7 separate regions of the Homo sapiens genome follow, and regions 1, 2, 4, 5, 6 and 7 are each reported to be linked to region 3. The links are microRNA targets in miRTarBase. Many come from high-throughput screens and were not tested one by one. Region 3 holds a microRNA gene; each other region holds the end of a gene's coding sequence.

Region 1 (3,000 bases), not on the chromosome of region 3:
CATACCAGCATTTTTATAACATTATCCATTACTAAGCTAACAGGCTACAAATCAATGTAATAGAATTTGACAGCTTTGAGTCATATTTCCTAAAGAGTCCAATTGTGACCATAAGCAAATACATCCACCCTTACACATAAGCACCAAAAATTTGCCAACCCATAAGTTAAGTTCTGTTAGGTTTCTGTTTGTTTATTTGAAAACATTAGTCTTCCCCTTTTCCACTAGGTATATAGGTAGAAAAATAAATGAAGTCAGCACTCTTTACGTCTCACTAAAATAAACTGTGACTCAAATACTGTGAGTGGTTATTTGCAAGGCTATAACTTTTTTAATGACAGATTTTCCTAAAAGAAACCACTATAACATCTGTCCAAGTACTCCAGAGAAAACAAAAAATACATAAAGATTAAAAGTCTATTACTTTAACAGCACATTGCCAAACACGGACAACTAGGATAAATGCCAAGAAACCTTAAAAAATAACTTTAAAAGATGCAACGTTCAAGCCATTCAAACGCGTAGGTTCCACAAACAACAGGAAAACAAGTCCAAGAGCAGTTCTACTTGTGCATGATGGTAACTCAGACTGTACTTCATCAAAGTTCATTCAGGTGTTTCATAGGCGTCTGAGCAGAGTTTGTTTTTTCTTCCTTGCTTGGAGATGTGTACACAGATTAGAGGAGAGGAAAGTCTTCCAGATGCTGATGTAAGCACAGCAGGCTTGGTTCCCCTTGATAAAGTATGAAGGCAGATTTAGTTGACTCAAGCTTTATCAGTTTCCCTAGTGAAAAGTCTTATGCATGCTGAAATAGACGAGTTACTGAATTTGTCATGCGAAGTATTTACATAAAGTGAGGTCAGTAACCCGACAGAATAAAAAAGGTAGTTGTTAAATTATTGTATAACCTTTTACAACTTGAATAACTTTGTGGGTAAGTGACACTGACGTTCAAACTCCTCAAACATACATTAACAAGAAACTATTTACTGCGTGAAGAGGCACACATCATGTAAAACATACACGTCATGGGAGGGATTCCTGCATAGCAGGAAAGTCGCTACCACTACATAACAAATGGCTATGCCAACAGTCAAAGCTGCCACGAAAGGGTACAACATTAGAATTCCCCTAAAATCTCAAGGAGTGTTTGCAATAGCACAGATAGATGCCTTTCGGAGAGTAAGTACATGTTTTGTTCAGAAGGGTATTTTTCACTGGAAAATCTGAACATCATGTAAATAAATCAATGTTCTAACTGGATAAGATTTAAGGCAATGCTACTCAGACCTGAGGGAAAAAAAATCCAAAAAAGTTTGTTTTTCTTCTGAATCATGAACAGGTCAAAATCAACATCAAAAAGCATTCTTCCAAGCATTCAATGCATCTTTAGGTATTATCAGCATTACAAAATAGAATCTACTTTCATACTCCAAATATGAAATGAGAAATTGTTCTGTGCTCTTCCTTGAGAACTGTAAAAAAAAAAATGCATGGCAGCTTAGGTAATTAATATTAAAACGTACCATGAAAATGAAGACTACTACACCTGCTGCACACAAAGGAGCCACCCTGCTGCAATCAGTGCTCCAGAATATTCGATTTCTCTTATGACTGACTTTGGTGCAGTGTGGAACGATCGTGGGTTCATAAATTAACTGTTGACATTAACTACAGACTAACAAATGATGATTAGACACAGTAAGTTCAAAAATTTTACATTTTGCTCCTGTTTGGCTGCTAAAGAGCAGCAATTTAAATCGATATAAAAACTTCTGACGACAAAGCCTGCTATACAGATAAAGTACATAATCAAAAATTAAGCAGCAATTAAATTTCTTATTTAAACTTATCTGGTATAGAATATTTACACATTTGGGAAGAGAGATCTCTGAAACCACCATTCTCTTTACTCGCCTCTTGCTCTCTGCCCACCCCAGCCCCTCCAAATCTAAATCAAGTGCCCTGAACTATATACACCTGTACTTTGGCTAAGCCGGCTAGATGTGACTCCTTCTACGGTCTTGGTCTGGAAGAAAAGACATAAAGTCTCAGAAGTCATTTGCAGCCTTCTTTTCTGAACAACAGTGTACTGTAGTCAATGAATCTGTGCTTTCACAGCAAGCGGGGGAAAAGGGTCCTCACACTTCACTCCCCAACCTGAATGGGGCAAGATCAAATGCCATCAGCTCGTTGCACCACAACAGGCCACCAGAGAAAAGGGAAAGAAAACGATCAGGACAAAGGCAGCAGCTATCAACAAAAGTTTCCCAACAAAGGAACCTCTCCTCCCTAGGTTCCCAAGGAAATAACACTCCCTCCTCACTCTCCCTCCCCTAGCACACAAAAAAATTAATTCACATCACGAGAACTGGTACTCTGGTTAAGTGTCAGGTAAGTTTAAGAAAGAGAAAATCCGTCACTTTTTACACTTTAACTGAGACATAAAACTAACAGAACACACAACATCACTGTGAAAGTAACTTCCTAAAACAGATCCAGTCTACAGAGTGCAACCAGGAAAACTTAAAGGAATATAGTTTGTTCACAATCTGCCGTGTACAGGATATTTATATTCTTTCTATGCCATATAAATAGCATTTATATAGCTTACACATTCAGAGACATGCACTGGGACTTTTAGGTAGTACAAATTTCTTCACAATCACATGTGCAAATTTTACAAATCACTAAGTGAGTATTAGTAAGCTTAGGCTGGACCATGTCTCGTATTATCTAACAAATTTAGCGGGGGTTCAGAATCATCCATTGGAAGAACCAGGCGTGTTCCTCGAATGACCAGTTCATGGTCCCCAAATGCAAGCTCCCGATCCAAGGCATCTTCAGAACTGTTTCCCATAAATCTCCTTGGGGCGCTGGATGTGGCCGGTTCAGTGTTCACAGTAGAATCTCCATATGTCAAACTGATGTCACCATCATTGAGAATAAGATCAGAATCATCATCTTTCAACTGTTCCTGGTTCTAAATGCAAATAAAG
Region 2 (3,241 bases), not on the chromosome of region 3:
CAACCCCTCAACCAGCCCCTGGTAATCATCATTCTACTCCTGGTTCTATAAGCTCAACTTTTTTAGATTCCACACCATATAAGCAAGATCATGAAGTATTTGTCTTTCTGTGCCTGGCATATTTCACTTAATGTCCATCAGTTCCATCCATGTTGTCACAAGTAACAGGATTTAATTTTTTATGGCTAATATTCCACTGTGTATACAGACCACCTTTTCTTTATCCATTCATTTGTTGATAGACACTTAGGTTGATTCCATATCTTGGCTACTGTGAATGCTGCTGCAATGAACATGGGAGTACAGATTATCTCTTCAACATACTCATTTTCTTCAGATATTAATATATACTTAGTAGTGGGATTGCTAGATGCTATAGGTAGTTCTATTTTCACTTTTTGAGGAACCTCTACTGTTTTCCATAATGGCTGTGCTACTTTACATTCCCAACAGTGTGCAAGGGTCTCCTTTTCTGCATATCCTTGCCAACACTTCTTTCATCTTTTTGATAAGTCATTCAACAGGTATCAGGTATTACCATTATCTCATTGTGGTTTTAATTTGCATTTCCCTGATGATTAGTGATCTTGGACATTTCTTCATATACCTGTCAGCCATGTGTATGTTTCCTTCTGAGACATGTCAATTCAGGTCAAGTCATTCCTTCTAACAGTAATTGGACAGCAAAGCCAAATTATATTAAGGCACTTCCCAGTAACATTAAGCCATATCTTCAACACTTGGAAGAATGTTTTCTGAGCCTTCGTGCGGTAAATCCAAAAGGGAGTTTTGTTCACTGCTCTAACCTACTGCCTAGAACAATGCCTGGCACATAGCAGGCACTCACAGTTGTTGAATTATTAGGCAAAATATGCATAATATCTTTATTATCTTAGCAGAGGGGGTAAATCCTCAAGTCACAATATACAGAGAACAGAAAGTAAGTTGTAAAATATTTTTTATTGTAAAAACAAAGTCAATAAAGGTTGACAATGTAAATGTTATCTCACAACATTTCCCCTTGGTTCCTGAATTTGCTAGATTCCTATGTACCAGCAAATCTCCATTAGCATTTCTCAGGTTTCATGATCCTTTTCAGATATGTTGGTTGATTTTATGTATATATTGCTTAGAAACAAAAATCCACCTGATATTAAAACAAACCAAAAAAAATCATAAAAGCAAGCAAATGAACAAAAAACCCTAGTTTTGTTGTGCTTTTCTTTCACATTTCCTACAGGGAGATTTGTATATCTCAGATACTTTCAAAATCTAATAGGTAAGTAAAATTAGTGCCTTAACCAAACAGTAAGATACCAAAGAATCCTCCATCACAAGTTACTGAATCAAACTTCTCATGACATTTGCGGTATATTCAGATTTGAAGATTTTTTAAATTTAGAATTTAAAACAAACTTTAGACTGCTGATTTTCCATATTTCAAAGACTGTAGTTGTTTGCAGCATATAAATGGAAAGAGTAGTGCAAAACGCATCAAGTTTTATATGATAAATATATACTTTCAACCTAATGGCTGCCTCAAAAGTAAAGAGTGAACAATTACTTCTCAAAATAAATCTAGATTGACTTAAAGTTCACAATTTAGAAATAGCAATTGCTACTCTATTTCCATAGATTGCAAAATGATTTCAAATACAGATTATACATACAATTGTTTTACAAAAATAGAAATATTGTTTGGGATTTTACAAAACTTTATAAAATATAACACTATATTTGCAAATTCAAGATAGTTTCACACTGAAATAGACAATACTTCCACGATATGAAGTCTAGCCAAACTTAAAGTGGTCTGCCTTGAGGCCATTCTTACATATTATTTCTTCCAAATCTTCAAGCCTAGGTAAATCTGTGCTCTAACACAGGCTTTGTAAAAAAGAGACTGTTTATTTTCAAGGGTTTTATAAGATTTTCAATCCAGAAATAATGTTAAAGCATAAGAATTTATACCTAAAAAATATGTCTTACTAAAGGTAGAAGCTAATGCAGTATGACAATTCTGTATAACTGATAAATTTCAAACCAAATTCCTAAGAATGACAACTTTTATTAATTTAAAATATATATTTGACAATTATAATTTGGGACCTATATAAAACAAAAATATAATCACAACTATTTTATGGAAAAATATTTATTCATATAGAGTGAAAATACCTCCAAACTTAGTTATTTGTAGCTGTCAGATGAGAAGTATTTCCTAATTACACCCATTCATAAACACTCATTTTATCACTTCAAAGAGCACCAGTGTATTTTTTCAACAAACCAGAAAGTAAGAAGGTAGGGGCTTATTTCATGTAACAGTGCTATTATGATAAGGCACCACTAGGTATATGAAAAAGCCAAAGTATTTCCAAATCATGTGTTTTTGTTACTGGTGTCTTAACCATTAGACAGGATGGTTAGAAAAAAGCTGCTAACATTATTAATGAACCACATTATAGCCCCTTTCCCACCATTCTGTGCTTTTAGTTTTACTTATAACAGAAATGAAAACAACAACGTAGTACATGACCTGTTAAAACAAACATCTTTTCCCAACCTTCCAAGAAAATAACCTAAAAATAAACAAGAAACAAAAAATTTATCTGATATATTTGCAAAAGCCTATCCCTGTAGAAGAGTGTGAGGAGTGGGAGAAGGCAGGGGGACCTACTTTCTATGGAATATATTGAGGCACATAGGTTACAAGTTTCTCAGGCAAATTCATGGCTAGAACAAAACAGAGAGAGAGCTCAGAATCTTACATTTCCCCCAAAGTTGATTTCTCAGATAGCCACACCTGATTAAATACTCCCAAATGTGTCCTTAGTCACTGCTATCATCATCGTCATCATCATCAGACATATCATTTAAAGGAGACTTCAATGACTGGCTGTAAGAGTCTGATCTAGCAGGCTGGCATGTGGCCATGTCCCCAGCAGAAAGCAGGTCATAGCAGAAGTCACAAATCCGCACAGGCTTAGAGGACTGGCTGGGAAGAAGAAATCTCTTTTCAGAGCAGGGCCCACAGACAACAAAACCACATTTGCGGCAATGGTGGCGACGATTAACAGGTGTGAATTTTGCTTTCTGACAACGCATACATACAGTTGCCTCAGAGTCAGGAACCCAGACAGCAGCATGTTCATTACTGGGTGTCTTCCCACTTTTGGAGAGTAAATCAGTAACACATTTATTTATATGATTCATCCATTCTGATTTCTCCGTAGCAGTG
Region 3 (3,241 bases):
TCATTTTTCAGGTTTTTTGTTTTTTTTTCCAGAAGGCCCTAATGTCTAATAATCCATCTTTATTTCACTGATTTGAGATGGCTTTTTTACATATGCTGGCTTTTCATTCTGTTGATGTACCAGCATTATACTTTCAGCTTTATAGAGGCATAAAAAGTATGTTTTAATCTCTAGAAGGGCTAGTTTCACTCCTTTGCTTGATTTTCTGTATGAACTTGGCAAACATTTTCTCTATTACAAAAATGTTTTTGGAATCTCAGTAAGTTTACATATTAACTTAGGGACAAATGATATCTTTATAGTAAGTCTTGCTGTTGAAGAACTTAGCTTGTCTGTTTGTTTAAGGCTACTTTTGTGCCTTTCACACATTTAAAAAGGCCTCTCCAAATATGTCCATACATGGCTTTTTAAATTGATTCCTAAATATTTTAAATTTACTGTTCTGTTGTTTATCAGTCTTGTCTCCCATTATGCTTCCTAACCATTGTTGCTTGTGCACCCCAAGTTCTTTGTCAGGGAATCCAGTGCCCTTTGATAGTGGACTTTGTCTCACTCTTCAGTAATATCTCCTGCCTCTCCCTTGCATAGACGCTTCACTCCGACCAAACATCTTGTGATTTCATAGATGTTTTCATTTCTCATTTCTGTGTGCCTTTAACCTTTAGTTGCCTCTGCCTAAGATTTTTCTTCTCATTTTTTCTGGCTTTTTCTGGTCCTTTTGCTCTGAAAGCCCTGCCTCATACCTTCTTAACTTTTTTCTCTTACCACTGTAATAAAAGATATTTTTTTGTTTGTATTTCCAAGGTTAGCCTTTGTTTGGGGTTAGCCTTTGTTTGGATTTTTTCCCTGTTACTGTTAGCGCTTCTCTTGCTGTCTTTTGTATGTAGGCCTGCATTGTCCATTACAGTAGCCTCTAGCCACGTAAGGCACTTGGCTTATGAGTGCCACATGTTGAATTGATGATATTTGGATATATTGGCTTAAATGAAATGTACAATTAAAATTAATTTCACTTGTTTATTTTTACCTTTTTAATGTGGCTAATAGAACATATATGAAATTATATATTACTCGTATTTTATTTCTATTGGACAGTGCTGCACTAGACTAATTCACTGTTTGAGGGACTATCTGTCTCCAGCACAAAGCTTGGTATGTCATAAATGTTTCTTGTGACTGAATGAAAAAGAATTTGAAGTTAAAGCTGAGATACTTTTGGAAACATTTTGTAATTTTGGCTAATTTGTTTTGAATCAGGTTTAAGTGAAGATATTTTGGTAATCTTTGCTTTCTTATAATAACTAACTATGCTTTTTTTGAGATGTCATTTTAACCTTAATTCTTTGAAAGGTATTACTTTACTCTTGCATAGATTTTTTTTGTTAGTTTGTTTTGATCTTATCCCTATGTGTTTCTACTTTTTGGTCCTAATTTTATAAAAATATCCAGGTTGTAGATATATCTGTTAATACGTAAAATGTTGCTTTTTATCAGCAGATTTGACTTTATTTTTCATTTTTCTGCAGTTTTGGGAATATGATTTATAAGGAGAAGCGAGAATCTGTTAGTAAAGAAGATCTGGCAAGAGCTACTTTAGTTACTATCACCAATAACATTGGTTCTGTGGCACGAATGTGTGCTGTTAATGAGGTAAAAAAACAAAAAACACAAAACTTGAATTATCAAAAATGTGAATTGGAGTCCTATATACACCTAGCAGGGCTTCTTCACTTTCCCTAAGGAGGCCTCTGGGATTGAGATGTAACCCATTAAATGCCAAGACTCATTAGGTATATATGTTACGTATCCAGTTGCTATATTACTTTTAAAGAAAGTAGCAGATAATTCAAATTGAAATAGGAGAAATTTATTCAGAATTTTTTTTCAGAAAAACACAACCTAAATCCCTTGAGGATGTAAAAGAAAGTTCTAAGCATAAGACATTTTGAGATACTTTGTGAAAGCATTTTTTTTAGTCTTAATTTTGCATTTGGAAGGCAGCTATGCTCACCACTATACCACCAGTGCTTAATGTTGCATTTGATTAGTGAAATTCTTGGAAGTTTTCTTACTGCCCTCGGCTTCTTTACAGTGCTGCCTTGTTGCATATGGATCAAGCAGCATTGTACAGGGCTATGAAGGCATTGAGACCTGTTCTTCATGATATTTGAGTGGTGTTTATTGTTACAAGAAAAGTGTGAAAAGGATATACTGTTAGATTGACCATATAGTTGGGATTCTTTGTTTGGAAGAGAATATATATATTTAATTCTAGCTTCCTTATATAATAATAGATATATTTGCCCGTTTAATTTTTATAAATATCAAATACTTTAAATGGATTGGGAAGTACGCTTTTCGAAGGAACCCTTCATTTGTTCATTCATTCATTTATTCATTGAGTAAATATTTACTGATTACCAGATGCCAGACATCGTTCTGGGTATTTGGAACATATTAATGAAGAAAACAAAGATCTGGCTTTGTGGAGCTTGCATTCATTCTAGTGACATATTAAGTAAATTGTGTAGTGTGTATTAGGTGATAAGTGCTATTTTTTTAAAAAGAGACCATCAAACAGGATAAAGAGGATTGGGAATAGGGCAGAGAGTGGTAGAGGACAAATTGCTAAGTAATTGAGTGGTTAAAGGAAAGCTTTATTGAAAATGTGATTCTTAGGCAGAGGTTTGAAGGAGGTGAGGGGGAAACTGTGCATGTAGACATTTTGGGGAGAAAGCTTCCAGCAGAGAGAACAAATATGCAAATCCTCTGAATTATTCTGTATTTAAATCCAGAACTTGGTCTCATCAGTTTTTTAATAACTTAGAAACTTAAGTGTTAGTTGGTTGATGGAGTTACTAGTAGACCATGTTGGGAGCTGACAACAATTTGAGACCTTTATTCTTAGCCCTTTATGTCTAAATTTCCACTGACCAATTGAGTTAACAATAATTTAGGCCATGGTTTACAGTATCCCAACTTATGTACAAAGATTTCTACTCAAAAGTCAGTATAGTGTGAGAGTCGAAATAAGTTTTCTGGTGATTCAAACACCAGTTCCCCTTTGTAAGATTTCCTAATCATAGAGATAATCTAAGAAACCAAATTAGTGTGGAATCTTTGCAGAGAGAGAATGATTTGATGAATCAGGCAGGGGACGGAGAAAGAATGCTAGAATCCTAGGGGAATGCACATGCCAGTACCCCAGTCAGTATTACTCTCCAATTCTGTAGAATCCACA
Region 4 (3,000 bases), not on the chromosome of region 3:
GTGTTATTTTAGCATGAATGGAACCCCCTGAGTAATGTGACTGACTCAGGAAGAGCCAGTTCATGCAGCTATTAGCCTCCAGTTCTATCCCAGTAAAGAGAATATTCTTGTTGGATTTGTGGAAAGGCTCTCAGAGGAAGGAAGAGAGACATTAGTGAGAATTTCCCTCAGATAAAACATGTTTTAATTTAAAGAAATCCTGCTCAATTATTTGCCCCCCACCAATATTACATATGAATAAATTAGGATGGAAATTGAAAGCCTTGCTTTTTGTCAAGAAATTTTTTTCCTGCCAAATTTCCCATTGTTATAATGCAAACACATATATTTAATGGACAGGCCAATCTTCCTCCTACTTTCTTTCTGCGTAAAGATTGGTTCAGTTCTAGAGTCAAGGACTTAAGAGTTTTTACTACATCCTTTCTGTCAGTTAAAGTAGTAACTGCATATAGTACTTTATTTGAATTTTATTGCATTTCTAAGTATTAAATGTACATCACAGACAATTTTGAAAATACCAAAAAGCCCAAGGAAGATTACAATCACCCATAATCCCACCACTCAGAAAAAAACCCTTATTACTAATAGTAAAAATTACTAAGTTGGTTATTTAAAAGGGTGCAGTAAAATGTCAAGAACACTTAAGTAGAAATCATAAAAAAAAACCTAAGGAAAAAGTAAAGGCATTTAAATTTGCTTTCAAATGAGGAAAACAAAGATTACCTATCCACAAACATGTTTTCCAGATTCCCTTCCTCCTTGGAAGTATCCACGAAATAGAATCAATGTGATTAAGAGACCATAGTAGTCAGTTCTCTTGCCTAAACTCTATGCTCAATCATACCTCTGTTTGTTACTGTATAAAAGATGAATGTTTTTCAGCAGTCGGGTATATCCATAAAGGCTCCTAATCACCAAATTACAGTAATACTTTATGAATGAACGAAGGGCTGCAAACTGTCATCAAAATCTATTACCTGTTTTATCTACTGAATTTCAGATTTCATTCTCTTTAACTGCTAAAAGAGTTTTTTTCCCTTGTGAAATTTTATAAGCACTTTCTGCTACCAATTTCCAATAGAAAACCCCATACAATCACAGCATAAAACAGCTGAGGGTGGCTAAAAAGAGACATACTCAGGAGTCATCTGAAAAAGGCCATAGAGCCACCCAGAGGACTTGAGTAGATGAAATTATTTTAGTGTATGAAGTCTATTTGGTGTACAAAGTCTATTTCTTGGAATGACACATCTCATGTGACCTAGGCTCTGTGAAAGTTAGGGTTTTGTGGACAACTATCTCTGGGAAATGCTTTACAGTATATATTCTTCTTGAGCTTATTATACATTAGCATATTAAGGGTTATGAGCAGTCAAGAAAAAATAAAATAATTCACCTTTGTTTCAGACAACGTTTCCCAAACTTCTTTGACCATGAATCCTTTGGAGGCATAACACTATTAATAACTCAAGATGCTCAGGATTTATGGAACACATTTTATGAATGCTACCTTAATGAATGTCCAGGATCTTCAGCCATATTAGTAATCCAGAGTTCAGCAAACTCAACAATGCTCACTCCTTTATTTAAATGTATATAGACTGAATTTGAATAATTTACCATTATAAATATTTATTTTTAAAAATCAACATATATGAGTAAATTTTAAAGTATGTAAATAATATCTCAATAAAGCTATTTTGGTTTAAGAAATCAATGTGTTGTTTCAGAAATACTGAAAAGTAGAGTTACTTAGTGAACATGATATCAGAGCAAAAACAGGATAGTTTTAAGTAATATTTTATGCTGGCCAAGGTGACTCATTCCTGCACGATAAGAGAAGATACATCTACAGTTAATATAATGTCTTCCAGACTCTATGCCTCTCTCCCAATCCTACCTCTTCTAGCTTTTTTCCCCAAATATTCTGGCTAATGTTTATAAATTAATCTACTTAAGTTCTCCTAATAGTACAAGAGAGTAAATGCATACTGCAGGGTGGCAATGAACAGCAGTAGCCATAGTCCAAAACAGCCCACTATAAATGTAGTCTTTTACCTAATGTTCTTCCAGGTATATATATGTGAAAAAATATTTTAAGAATTGCAAAGATTAAAAGTTTCTAATTCCAAATCTTTAGGTATAACTGCTATATAAAGAATATATGTTATATATTTACCTGTGACATTATATGGTCTAATACACATCAAATATAACCTATTTGAGAAGTAACATTCAAAGCTAAAAATCTCCCTTCTAATCTTACTAATTTTTTCTAGAAGTAAAAATTGACAAGGTTGATCTAAGTGCTAAATCAGAATCATACTCCATGCATCCGTCCTAGAGTTGATACAAGAAAAGCTTATCTCATTTGTTGCCATAGATGGATTATACCAGCTAAATAAATTTCAACGGTCACTTTTAGTTTCTTTATCTCTTGGTTCAAATACAAGTAGCATAAAAAGAAAAGAAGATGGTACTTTTTAATATGCAAACCATTTATTGAACTATTTACTATTTTAAAATATCATTCTTAAAAGAGGCCACAAAAATTATAACATTCAGAAATTTTAGGTAAACTCCAAAAGTAAGCTTTTTTTTTTTTTGGTAGTCAACTTGTACCAAGTTTAGCAGCAAGAGGATACTTCCTTAGAGACTTTCAGTGGACTTAAACTCAGTTTCCGCTGGTGCTATGTAAAGCATCCACGATGGTTTTATTGTACTCTGCAATCTGCTTGGTCACATTTTTCTTAATTGGCTGGTAATCACTCTCTTGACTCTTGGTTGCTATGACTAATTACATGAGTTAAGGGGGAAAACAATGTCAATAAAAATCTAATTGTGCCTGAGAAAGGAACTAAATACTGACATTTTTCATACTGAAGATGGTACAAAAAAGCACAATTAGAATACTTTAAAATACAGTACATCATTTTAACAGATTAAGCATCAATTAAAACCTAAAATGCCAAGCTAAACTTACCGCAAAAAATTCATATA
Region 5 (3,241 bases), not on the chromosome of region 3:
CCAAGATAAGTGGAAACACTGGGGAGGAAGGTGATGAACAGACGGAGGTGAGCCAGAGACACCTCCTGGGCAAGTCGGCCAGGAGGCGGGAGGCGTGGGTCAGAGACACTGCAGGAACTGGGTGAGGACAAGGAGGTGCGAGGAAAGGGGTTGGGGGATGGTCCCACAGGCAGCCACACCTGAGGCGTGGGAGGCAGGTAGGAGCTGGGGGAGGGCGGGGAGAAGAGGGGTTTCTGTGTGTAGATCTGAGTCCTCCCTCACATCCCAGCCGTGCCACAAGCCGCATCGGCATGAGGCCGGCTCTCCCTTCTTCACTGGTCTCAAAAGCCACCCAGGCCCAAGTCCCGGCCAGACAGCCGAGCCTGCCTAGCAACGCTGACCGGCCGCCCAGGATGGCCCAGACACCTTCTGTCTCCTGAATGCAGCCTACAGGGGTTCAAACAGACTGCTTGCATTAAGGTCAGACAAGGCTCTTTTACTTCCAGAGACAGCGGCCTGGAGCCTCGGGAAGAATGTAGGCCCAGGAATCACCCAGCCCCTCAGGACAACCTCTCTGAGCAACAGACATCCTCCCTGTTGAATGAGAGTGACATCTCTGCCCTGCCACCTACTTTACATGGATGCCACGAAGTGGGAGAGCCTGAGCAGTAGACAGGGAAGAGGCGAGCGGCCCCACTGCAGGAGGTAGACAGGCTACAGATACTTATGCAGCAGCCACACTGAGGCTAGTACTGGAGGAGGCTGAGAACCAGTAATGAGTTCTTAATGGTTTGATAATTTGGGTTTTTAAATATTAAATATTAAATATCAGGGGTTTCGGAAGGAATGATGAATTCCGTCTCATGCTGTAACTGATGAAGGCAACCAATGAGCAATCCTTCCTTCCCATAGCCGAGAAAGGGAAAGGGGACAGGCCAATCCCTCTGAAGCAGTAAGTCAGAACACGAAGACTTACAGAACTCAAACATCAAAGGTCAAGTAGCTTCTAGCCAGGAAAAGTGGTGGCCCCCTCAGCCTAGCCAGCACCAACCAGCATGGGTGGAGACTCAGCCTGGCAGTAAGGGCATTTCCTGGGTTTCCTCTGAAGCAGAGGAGAAATAGTGGGTCAGCCAGGCTGCTGGACTGAACCATGAGCCAGAAGGCCAGAATCACTGCAAGACAGCTCCAGCCCGCACACCTCAGTTGTGCTTTTGAAAACAGGTACAAAGCTGAGGCATGGGAGCTGTGACTGAAGTCGCCCTCCTGGCTGGCCTCGTCTTCTACCTCTGCTTCCACAGCTGGGTGACTTGGCCATAGGCCCAAACAATGGACAACCAGTTCCACATTAGGAGGCATCACGGACGCATCTGAGAGGAAACATGATTGAAGGACAAGCTTGGCCTCATGGAGGGCTCTGGATTCATCCCTTGAAGAACGCAGTGATCAAACAAAACCAAGAAGCAGGCCTGGAGGGAGCACTCTGGGATGCCCCCAAGTCCCCTCACCATTTACAAACCAGCACTGAGTTCTCAGCCTCCGCTCCTCAGGACTAGGAGACAAGATCCGGACAGGCAGGACAGGCAGCAAGCCGACTGTGAGCAGCCTGGGGGCGCAGGTGTAAAATACAAAGCCCTTTGAAGGTCCAGACAATAAGAGTAAAGATGTTAAGATTGCCCAGGAAAAGAACTTCACTGACACTGAATTTGGGCAACACCTAGAACAGACAATATTAAGATATCAATTCTGAGAAAGACTCACAGGAAAGGCTGTTTAGGAGGACACTAGAGACAAACACAGGGAAAATAAATACAGGGGCTCTGGGATCCCCCCACAGAAGCTACTAATGCTATTTATTGGCTTGGGTCACTTTTGAGAATAGAAAACCATTTTTTGGCAAAGCTGTACAAACTCCACATCAGGGCGTCTCCTGCAGTTGGGGACACAAGATGGCCACAGTGACCGGGCTCTTCATTAAACTTCCTCATAACCCGCTACGGTGTTCAGAAGCTAAGACGTGACTTCCAGAGCCAGGCCAGGCATGTGGAGGCCCCTGACTGTGGGCGTGTCAAGCCCTGGCTGGGGAGCCTGCTGCCTGCCCGGCCACTCCTCAGCTGTGGCTGTGGCTGTGGGCATGGCCGGACGGCGTGCACACTGGGCCGTCCCCTTTTGCGCAGGGTGGAAGGGGGAAGGAGGGTGGGACTCCATGGGCTCCACGATGTCTTCTAGCCCTGGTATTCTGTGAGACTAACTTCGCCCTGGTCATTCACCATGGCTAGGCACCAAGTGCCATCTAGTGGCACCGCGGGTCCACTTTCACAACACTCCAACCAAAGACTGCAGAACAAACCAACTCTTACCCACTTTAACTCCGGGGGTGAGGGCAGAGGAGGCTGGAAGGGTGAGCACACTTCATGGTAGTGATGGGACATACTCATCTCAAGAAAATATACTTTAAGACGTCTTGCTTTCCTTAAGAAAGCAACACTTTTTTTTTTATTTATTTATAAAGGCTAACCATATCCATTTGTCAATATTTTCGGCTTTAAGGAAAATAGTTTAAAAAACATAAAAAGGTAAATACACTCAAGAGTAACTGCTATTAAACAGTTCTGAACAGGCAGAAAATGTAGACTTTCCTTTAACAGAAAATGTTAAATCTGTAATAGCAGCATAATTTATATATAGAAAAAAGCTGGTTTTGAAAACCCAGATTTATACCCAAAACATTTTTTTTCTGTACAACTGCGTTTACACTGGGAAATAAGTTTCTTCACATTATGTTCATTCCCATCAGGTACAGGTGTGAGCTTGAGTTTGATCAGCCAGCCCTGAGCGCAAGCTCAGCGCTCAGCACAATCTTCAATCCAACACCATGGCAGAAAGCGCATTTAGATCTTTCATGTATGGGTGGGCCACCAAGATCTGGTCTATTTTCAGTCTTTGCTCTGAGTCAGGGAAGATCTTCAGAAGGGCTTCCCTCAGCTCGTTGGTTTCTGCAGAAGATCTCTGAGCTGGCATGGGCAGGTTCTGCTGGAGACTGGGGAGGGCTGGCAGCAGTGGGAAGTGGGGCTGCTGAGGGAGCCAGTGGCTTGAAGGGGCTCCCTGAATCCGGGTCGGAGGCTGGTGGCTGGTGCTGGCTGCCTGGGTGCCAGGGACTCTGAAGCTGGGGTCAAACATGCCCACATTTGGCAGGGCACTGAGTAGGGGCTGCATATCTCTGTGAATGGAAGTGAGTCCTGGTGAGTTGGGTTATAAGTAAACA
Region 6 (3,241 bases), not on the chromosome of region 3:
TCCACGATTCAAAGCTTTTTCTCTCTCAAAAAGAAAAGTGCTAAGCTGGTTGTTTTAACTATGGGAAAAGAAAAAACATTTAAAAGTGTTACTTTCTGGGTAAGTTCCTTTCCATACCTTTTAATTCCACTGTTTCCAGGATTGGGACCATCCTTTGTCTATATTTCAGACCCTATATAGGCACTTGCTTGCTGCAAATGAGCCTTGTTAACATCAAGGTAGTGTGTAATTCCAGCTCACGCATCCGTATTTCAGTAGCCTCTCTTCTCGCTTATTGTGTGTTGAGAGAGACCAGATCTTCAAGGCATCCTTTTAATAAAACCATTGCAGAGACTCCACTCTGCAATGCACTAAGGAGCCAGGGCTAACTGCAGAGGCTTACCTTCTTTTCAGGTGCTGAGCCAGGAACAAAGCAACACTACTTTGTTCACACTTGAAATCCTCAGTGTTCTCTGCAGGCAAGAAGCAGTTGGCTGGGTTTGGCTCTATGCCAGCATGAAAATCACTAGGGGTGCTTAATAAAATGGTTATTTCTGGGGCTACATCATGGATTTGAAATCCAGACTCACATGTGAGTGGAGAGCCAGAGAAGCTGGAGATTTGGGAGTCGTGTGAATAGTAATAATGGAAACCACGAGATGAACTACAATTCACAGGCAAAAGAATATGGCAGTAGAAAAAGATGTAGGTAATTGGCCAGGCGTGGCGGCTCAGGCCTGTAACCCCAGCACTTTGGGAGGCTGAGGTGGGCAGATCACTTGAGGTCAAGAGTTTGAGACCAGCCTGGCCAACATGGCAAAACCCCATCTCTACTAAAAATATAAAAAATTAGCTGTGCATGGTGGCATGCGCCTGTAGTCCCAGCTACTTGGGAGGCGGAGGCACGAGAATCGCTTGAACTCGGGAGGCACAGATTGCAGTAAGCCAAGATCATGCCAGTGTACTCCAGCCTGGGCAACAGAGCGAGACTCCATCTCAAAAAAAAAAAAAAAGATCCAGGTAATTACAGTCCCTTCGCCTCACATTTCTGAATGAGGTAAATAAACTCATTTCTTATTCTCATAATATACAGGATCTATGATAAACAGCAGCACAATTACGCCAGTAACCACAGGGCATGCCTATAGATACAAAAAGTTCTTTGTAGCATGGGTTCGGTCGGCTTTTATCTAACTAAATTTTCTGAAATTTAGAAAACCATCTAAATATGGAATAAATGGTTTTACTTACCATGCTGAAGAAAAAGAAGTAAAAATGTCTAAATATTTAGCAGAAATATTACTTCAAAACTGATTTTACTTTTTGTTTTTGCTAAGTAATTTTAAGCGTGCCCAAGGATAAAAAAAATCTGTACCAATCATGGGTTATTACATTGAGGATAATGGGAGCCACTGTCTGAGAAAGGAGTTATCAATATGGAAAGAAAATGAGAAGCAATCCTGTGTTGTTGGACTAGAATTGGAGGTACTGGTGTGAATTCATGGTTTTCAATATATGGATATGAAAGTAAATTTAGATATTAATGTGAAGCAAATTTAGACAACGTGTGTACATATGTGTGTGCATACATGTACACAATTCCCAAGTTCTGACCACTGAGCCTGGGATGAGTGGCACCACAATAGTAAGCACTCCAATCTAACCTTTTATAATAATTTCCTACTAAAAGCAAGCAGGGCTGGAGTAGAGAAACCTGGAATGTCTCATTGTCAAAAAATACAGCAGTGCCCAAGTAGATGGGGGACATGTCAAAAGTACACAGGGGCTAACCTGAAGGTGCTCCCAGCGGCCATATTTGAGACCAGTTACGCATCTAAAGAAATAATGATGTAACAAACCGTAACCCATTGAATAAAAGAAGAAACTACGAGTCCATACTAGGATGAGTTGAATATCTCTTATCTGAAATGCTTGGGACCAGACGTGTTTCGAATTTTTTTGGATTCTGAAATATTCACATTATCCTTATTGGTGGGGCATTCCTAATCACAAACAATACCCTTAATTGTTTACAGGAAATATATACTAAAGTATTTAAAGGTGATAGGCCCACTGGGTTGGCAACTCACTCTCAAATGGTTCAGGTTCTGTACTTGGAATTTTTCTGTTTGAGAATGTTTCAAAATAAAAATGTTTTTAAAAGTGTAATTTCCTTTTTATTTGCATCTGTTTATGACTGAAAAAATGACTAGTTATTATGAAGACACTACTGTTGAAGATGGATATTTTAACATGGAGTTTCAACAAAATTACTTCTTGAGACAGAGCTGATGTGTTTTTTAAATAACGTGATTTTAAGCATATATTTGAACAAAACTAAAACATTTAGTATTATGAATATGAAAAAAGATCAGTAAATCAATGTACTCTTCTAGGCTGAATTAAGGTAGACTATTTAAGGTTTCAAAAAAGTTTGGCTGGGGCAGAATAAGTTTTACAAAACCCATGCCATCCAAAATTAAGATGACATGTAGCAGCAAGAAGTATTCCAATGTCTCATAACCAGTTCTCGCAAGCAATGTGTATTCCTTACTTTAAGGAAGTGTCAAACAAATAGAAAAATCTGGAAGAATTTACTAAGTGTAATAAATTAGAGGTAAATCGTAATAAAAGAATTTATGTCTCACAAAAATATTCACAAGTGGGAGTTTTCTTCTACCAACTTCTCAGAGTCCTTCTAGCCCCCTCTTCACTTCTGAAAGATGGGATTTACCAAAATCTGGTTTACATTTAACTTTTCAGGGACACATGACCTGAAAAGAAAGATGTCAGATAATACTGACATTGCCTCATGCACTTTCTTTGTATCAGTCCTTCTTCTGTAAGTAATCAGAATTGGGTCCAAATGGCATAGAATCAAACATTATGTATCATGCCAAATACCACTTCCTGCCCAACAAAATTTCATTTTTCTCCAGTAATGAAGAGGTGGACATTCTTGTTGGACTGTAGCATCTGTGCCGCCCGCTCCACACCAACCACGGCAGCTAACCTCTGGGCATCATATTTGGAGTAGAGAACAGTGCAGGTCCACGTGGCCTCTTCTCCTCTGTTGGTGGCTCTCAGCATATTACAGATTTCACTGTAAAAGTGTGGATATGTCGGCAGTTCATAGAAAATCAGGTTCCTGATGCCTTTTATTGTATACCTGTCAGAATTGGAAAGAAAGAGCTATGTCAACTTGAGAAACAAGTTCTAGAAAAACTACCTAGGAGTTGTACAGAGGCATAGTTCATGCTTG
Region 7 (3,241 bases), not on the chromosome of region 3:
AAAAAGAAAAGTGCTTATTAATGGCCATTCAAGCAGTGGGGTGAAGCGGGCTGACACAATGCACAGTATGGAAATAAGTAACCTTGGCTACAGTTTCCAAGGACACGGGGCTCCTGGCTGACAAGAAGAGCTGAGGTGAAGCTGAATGCAGCGTTGAGCCATTTTAATAAACGTTTATAAAGAAAAGCAGCGCAACCGTGTCCCACACTCCTTGGATCCCTATTGGTGGCATCTAATTAAACATTTCAAGTATTCAAGAGATATGAAAGGTAGTGAATACTTTTCATAGCAAAGGCTTTTTTTCTGTTGACATCTGCTGAATTTTCCTGTGGCACCTCCCAAGGAGTGACTAAGCCTACCATCCTTGGTAAGGAAAATGGGGATTATACTAAGGAATTTTATCTGAGGCATTCTGGAATTTCTCAGGAATAGAAACCAGCCCAGCTACCAAGTGAGCTTTTTAAAATGTTGATACTGGGCCACTGTGACATGACAGGCATCTATATAGCATTTCAAAAAAATGCTTCAGCAATACAAATTCAAACTGGGAAACTTTTTTTTTTTTTTTTTTAAGAGACAGTGTCTCGCTCTGTCATCACCTACGCTGTCACGTGCAGCCTCAAACTCCTGGACTTGTGATCTCCCGCCTCAGCTTACCTAGTAGCTGGGACCACGAATGTCCACAGATGCACTCCACCTACCCGGCTAATTATTTTTTGTATAATTAGCTGGGGTCTTTACCATCATGCCCAGGGCTGGTCTCTAACTCCTGGGAAACATTCTTATTGCAAAGGTAGATTCTGCTGTCATGGTTCTGTTATGAAATTTAGGCCAGGCGCAGTGGCTCACGCCTGTAATCCCGGTACTTTGGGAGGCTGAGGCGGGCGGATCGCCTGAGGTCCGGAGTTCAAGCCTGGCCAACATGGAGAAACCTTGCCTCTACTAAAAATACAAAATTAGCTGGGCGTGGTGGTGCACGCCTGTAATCCCAGCTACTCACGAGGCTGAGGCAGGAGAATCGCTTGAACCCGGGAGGCGGAGGTTGCACTGAGCTGAGATTGTGCCATTGCACTCAAGCCTGGGCAACAAGAGTGAAACTCCATCTCAAAAAAAAACAAAGAATTTTTAAGGCCAATTAGCAGCCTGCTTGCATTCCAGCTCCATGTGGAAGTGGTGCTGTCCAGGATGGAAGCGCCGAGGCCTCAGGAAAAGCCTGCCAAAAGCTGTCCCACTTGTGTTGTTAGAAACACCCCACTAGCCTTGTGGTGGGCAAAAGCTCCAAAGGTGCCCATTCAGAGTGAGCTGCCTCAGTCAGGAATGGCCAGAGACGGTATCATCGGGAGCGAGTGAGAAAAGCCTTTCTCTCCTCGGTGCCTCTCTGTGCATTCGGGCACGCAGAAGGTCAAGCAGAAGCCTCAGCAACAGCTGTTTAATGAAAATGTTCCACACCTTTCTTGGAGAACATGGAAAAGCTGTAAGATGGAGCAAGACAGAATTTGTCCTGAGAGGGGAAAATAAATTATGTAAAAGCAGCAATTATATAGACAAGACCAACTTTTTCAGTTTAAAAATAAAAGTCTAGGTCAGAGGGTCTAAACCACACAAAGTAAAGCACACGAGATTGAAAAATCTCTTCATAAAGCGCATAATCAACAATTCAGAGAGACGTGTGCCCTAGATTGGTAGTTCTTCCCAGGAATAACACAGCTCTTAGCCACTTGGGTTTTTCCCCTAATTTTATGCATTCACATTAAATGGCAAAGACAATTCCCTACTCCAGGAAGCATGAGCCTTTTCTATCTAAAATTCAGTACTGTTTCTGGACAATTTTCTTCTACTTCTTCTAAGTCATGTATCTATCCCATAAATATACATCTTGATACTTTACACTAGGCCGAGAGCTCCACATTTTCACCCTGAATTAATTTTCAGGTTTTTCTCACAGATACTGCAAAGTCAGGCAGTGTTGGTCCCTATGCAGTCATCTTTGGAAATTTGGAGAGAGGCCACTGCAAAGAGATTTCATTCCACTGCCTTTCCAAATCTTGTCTGAGAAAACTCCATGGTCACAGTCTTTGCATGCGGCAGAACAGGTTTGCAGCGAAGGCTCCCGGGGGGAAGGATATTATCCTAATACACAGGATTTGGGCCTCTGTCAAAATGAGCATTCTTCACGGCTGCAGAGTGCCCAGGCATGTTTTGGGAAAAAGTCTTGAGAGTGGACAGAAGTGAAGGGAAGGAGTAGAGAACTGGTTCAGTTGTGACAACCAAGTGGGTAAAATCTGCCCTCACCTGCCTGCTACTGTCCAGGGGAGATGGGCAGAATCTTCTCCATAAAAAGCAGAACATCAGTTTAATCGCAATTTCCTCTTTTTATTCATTTCAGACATTAACAAACTAAATGCAGATAAATGTATTCTACTTCACAGGACAGTAAGTGTCCTAGATAAAAACAAGCACTGGCTCCAAGCAGTCGCCCATTCTAGTCCCGCAACGGTAATCTATTTTTCTTCAAATGTCAGTTCTTCACAGTTTCAATACTGCAGCAGCAAGTTCTTCCTTAGATCAAGAAAGCCGTGGTCCGTATTTCAGAAAATCTTAAGTAGAGATAAGTGAGCAAGCTTCTGGTGCCACGTGCAGTTTGGGTGGGACAATTTTACCTGAAGTCCTGCAGACTGGCCGTGGGGATGACGGGGGCCCCGTCCCTTGCGGTGTTCTTCATATCGATTCAGGGAAGCGAACTGTGCAGTGCTCGCATTCTATTTATTGGTCCCTGTCACCCCGTGGGGTGTCACAGAAAAAAAAAAGTCAATGCTTCACAGAGGAGTTGTTCAGAGCAGGTCAGGCAGGACGAGGCCAGGAGGCTTTGGTTCGACACAGTTGATCCAGAAGTTGGCACAGCTGGCGTGATACTGGTGCCCTCCATAGGCCAGCTTGAAACTGTCTGTTTCTGAGTTGAATGCCTGCCAGAAATAAACAGAGATGTGGGGCAAGTCAGGCTTTTTCTGCATCTCAGAGCTTTTCAGCAACCAACATGTACATCTATCTCTCCAGGTCACAGAGGCTGAGGCCAAAATGGCACACACATAAAAGCTGAGCGGATAGCTACAGGAATTCAAGAGAGAAGGTTTTTTACTGCTAATTAAAGGTATAAAATTGTTACCACTAAACCTAGTTTCAGCAAAAGGTGGCCAAATCTTCCATGGAAAAGGCAGACAGAGGTTATGGGGTGGAGGGGGGG

The links. Region 3 holds the annotated microRNA hsa-miR-103a-3p (AGCAGCAUUGUACAGGGCUAUGA, at 2,117-2,139, shown strand). A microRNA usually pairs through its seed, bases 2 to 8, with sites in the 3' UTR of a target mRNA and lowers its output. Matches are read on the target gene's strand: a 7mer-m8 pairs with bases 2 to 8, a 7mer-A1 pairs with bases 2 to 7 and ends in A, and an 8mer does both.
Region 1: the mRNA of SLC9A6 is a reported target of hsa-miR-103a-3p. The part of its 3' UTR that is shown has no 7-base or 8-base seed match.
Region 2: the mRNA of PLEKHF2 is a reported target of hsa-miR-103a-3p. Seed matches in the 3' UTR shown: 8mer at 1,459-1,466.
Region 4: miRTarBase lists IFT74 as a target of hsa-miR-103a-3p. The part of its 3' UTR that is shown has no 7-base or 8-base seed match.
Region 5: the mRNA of N4BP1 is a reported target of hsa-miR-103a-3p. Seed matches in the 3' UTR shown: 7mer-m8 at 2,645-2,651 and 7mer-A1 at 707-713.
Region 6: the mRNA of UTP25 is a reported target of hsa-miR-103a-3p. The part of its 3' UTR that is shown has no 7-base or 8-base seed match.
Region 7: the mRNA of SYNRG is a reported target of hsa-miR-103a-3p. Seed matches in the 3' UTR shown: 7mer-A1 at 2,542-2,548.

What each region holds. Positions count from the first base shown.
Region 1 is chrX:136,044,436-136,047,435 of GRCh38, reverse strand. It overlaps SLC9A6 (solute carrier family 9 member A6), which reads right to left. Exons shown (of 18, transcript NM_001379110.1): 18 at 167-2,984. The coding sequence ends at 2,712. Among named protein-coding and RNA genes, the nearest start is that of SLC9A6, 61 kb to the right of the region's middle.
Region 2 is chr8:95,154,386-95,157,626 of GRCh38, reverse strand. It overlaps PLEKHF2 (pleckstrin homology and FYVE domain containing 2), which reads right to left. Exons shown (of 2, transcript NM_024613.4): 2 at 942-3,241. The coding sequence ends at 2,833. Among named protein-coding and RNA genes, the nearest start is that of PLEKHF2, 22 kb to the right of the region's middle.
Region 3 is chr5:168,559,802-168,563,042 of GRCh38, reverse strand. It overlaps MIR103A1 (microRNA 103a-1), which reads left to right and starts at 2,070; the gene lies at 2,070-2,147. It overlaps PANK3 (pantothenate kinase 3), which reads left to right. Exons shown (of 7, transcript NM_024594.4): 5 at 1,527-1,650. MIR103B1 (microRNA 103b-1) reads right to left here and starts at 2,139; the gene lies at 2,078-2,139.
Region 4 is chr9:27,062,411-27,065,410 of GRCh38, reverse strand. IFT74 (intraflagellar transport 74) reads right to left here. Exons shown (of 20, transcript NM_025103.4): 20 at 1-2,793. The coding sequence ends at 2,675. Among named protein-coding and RNA genes, the nearest start is that of TEK, 45 kb to the left of the region's middle. RefSeq lists a silencer at 1-160.
Region 5 is chr16:48,540,066-48,543,306 of GRCh38, forward strand. It overlaps N4BP1 (NEDD4 binding protein 1), which reads right to left. Exons shown (of 7, transcript NM_153029.4): 7 at 1-3,196. The coding sequence ends at 2,839. Among named protein-coding and RNA genes, the nearest start is that of N4BP1, 68 kb to the right of the region's middle. RefSeq lists enhancers at 1,556-2,056, 2,057-2,557.
Region 6 is chr1:209,851,111-209,854,351 of GRCh38, reverse strand. It overlaps UTP25 (UTP25 small subunit processome component), which reads right to left. Exons shown (of 12, transcript NM_014388.7): 12 at 1-3,148. The coding sequence ends at 2,905. Among named protein-coding and RNA genes, the nearest start is that of UTP25, 25 kb to the right of the region's middle.
Region 7 is chr17:37,516,109-37,519,349 of GRCh38, forward strand. SYNRG (synergin gamma) reads right to left here. Exons shown (of 22, transcript NM_007247.6): 22 at 1-2,963. The coding sequence ends at 2,832. Among named protein-coding and RNA genes, the nearest start is that of DUSP14, 28 kb to the left of the region's middle.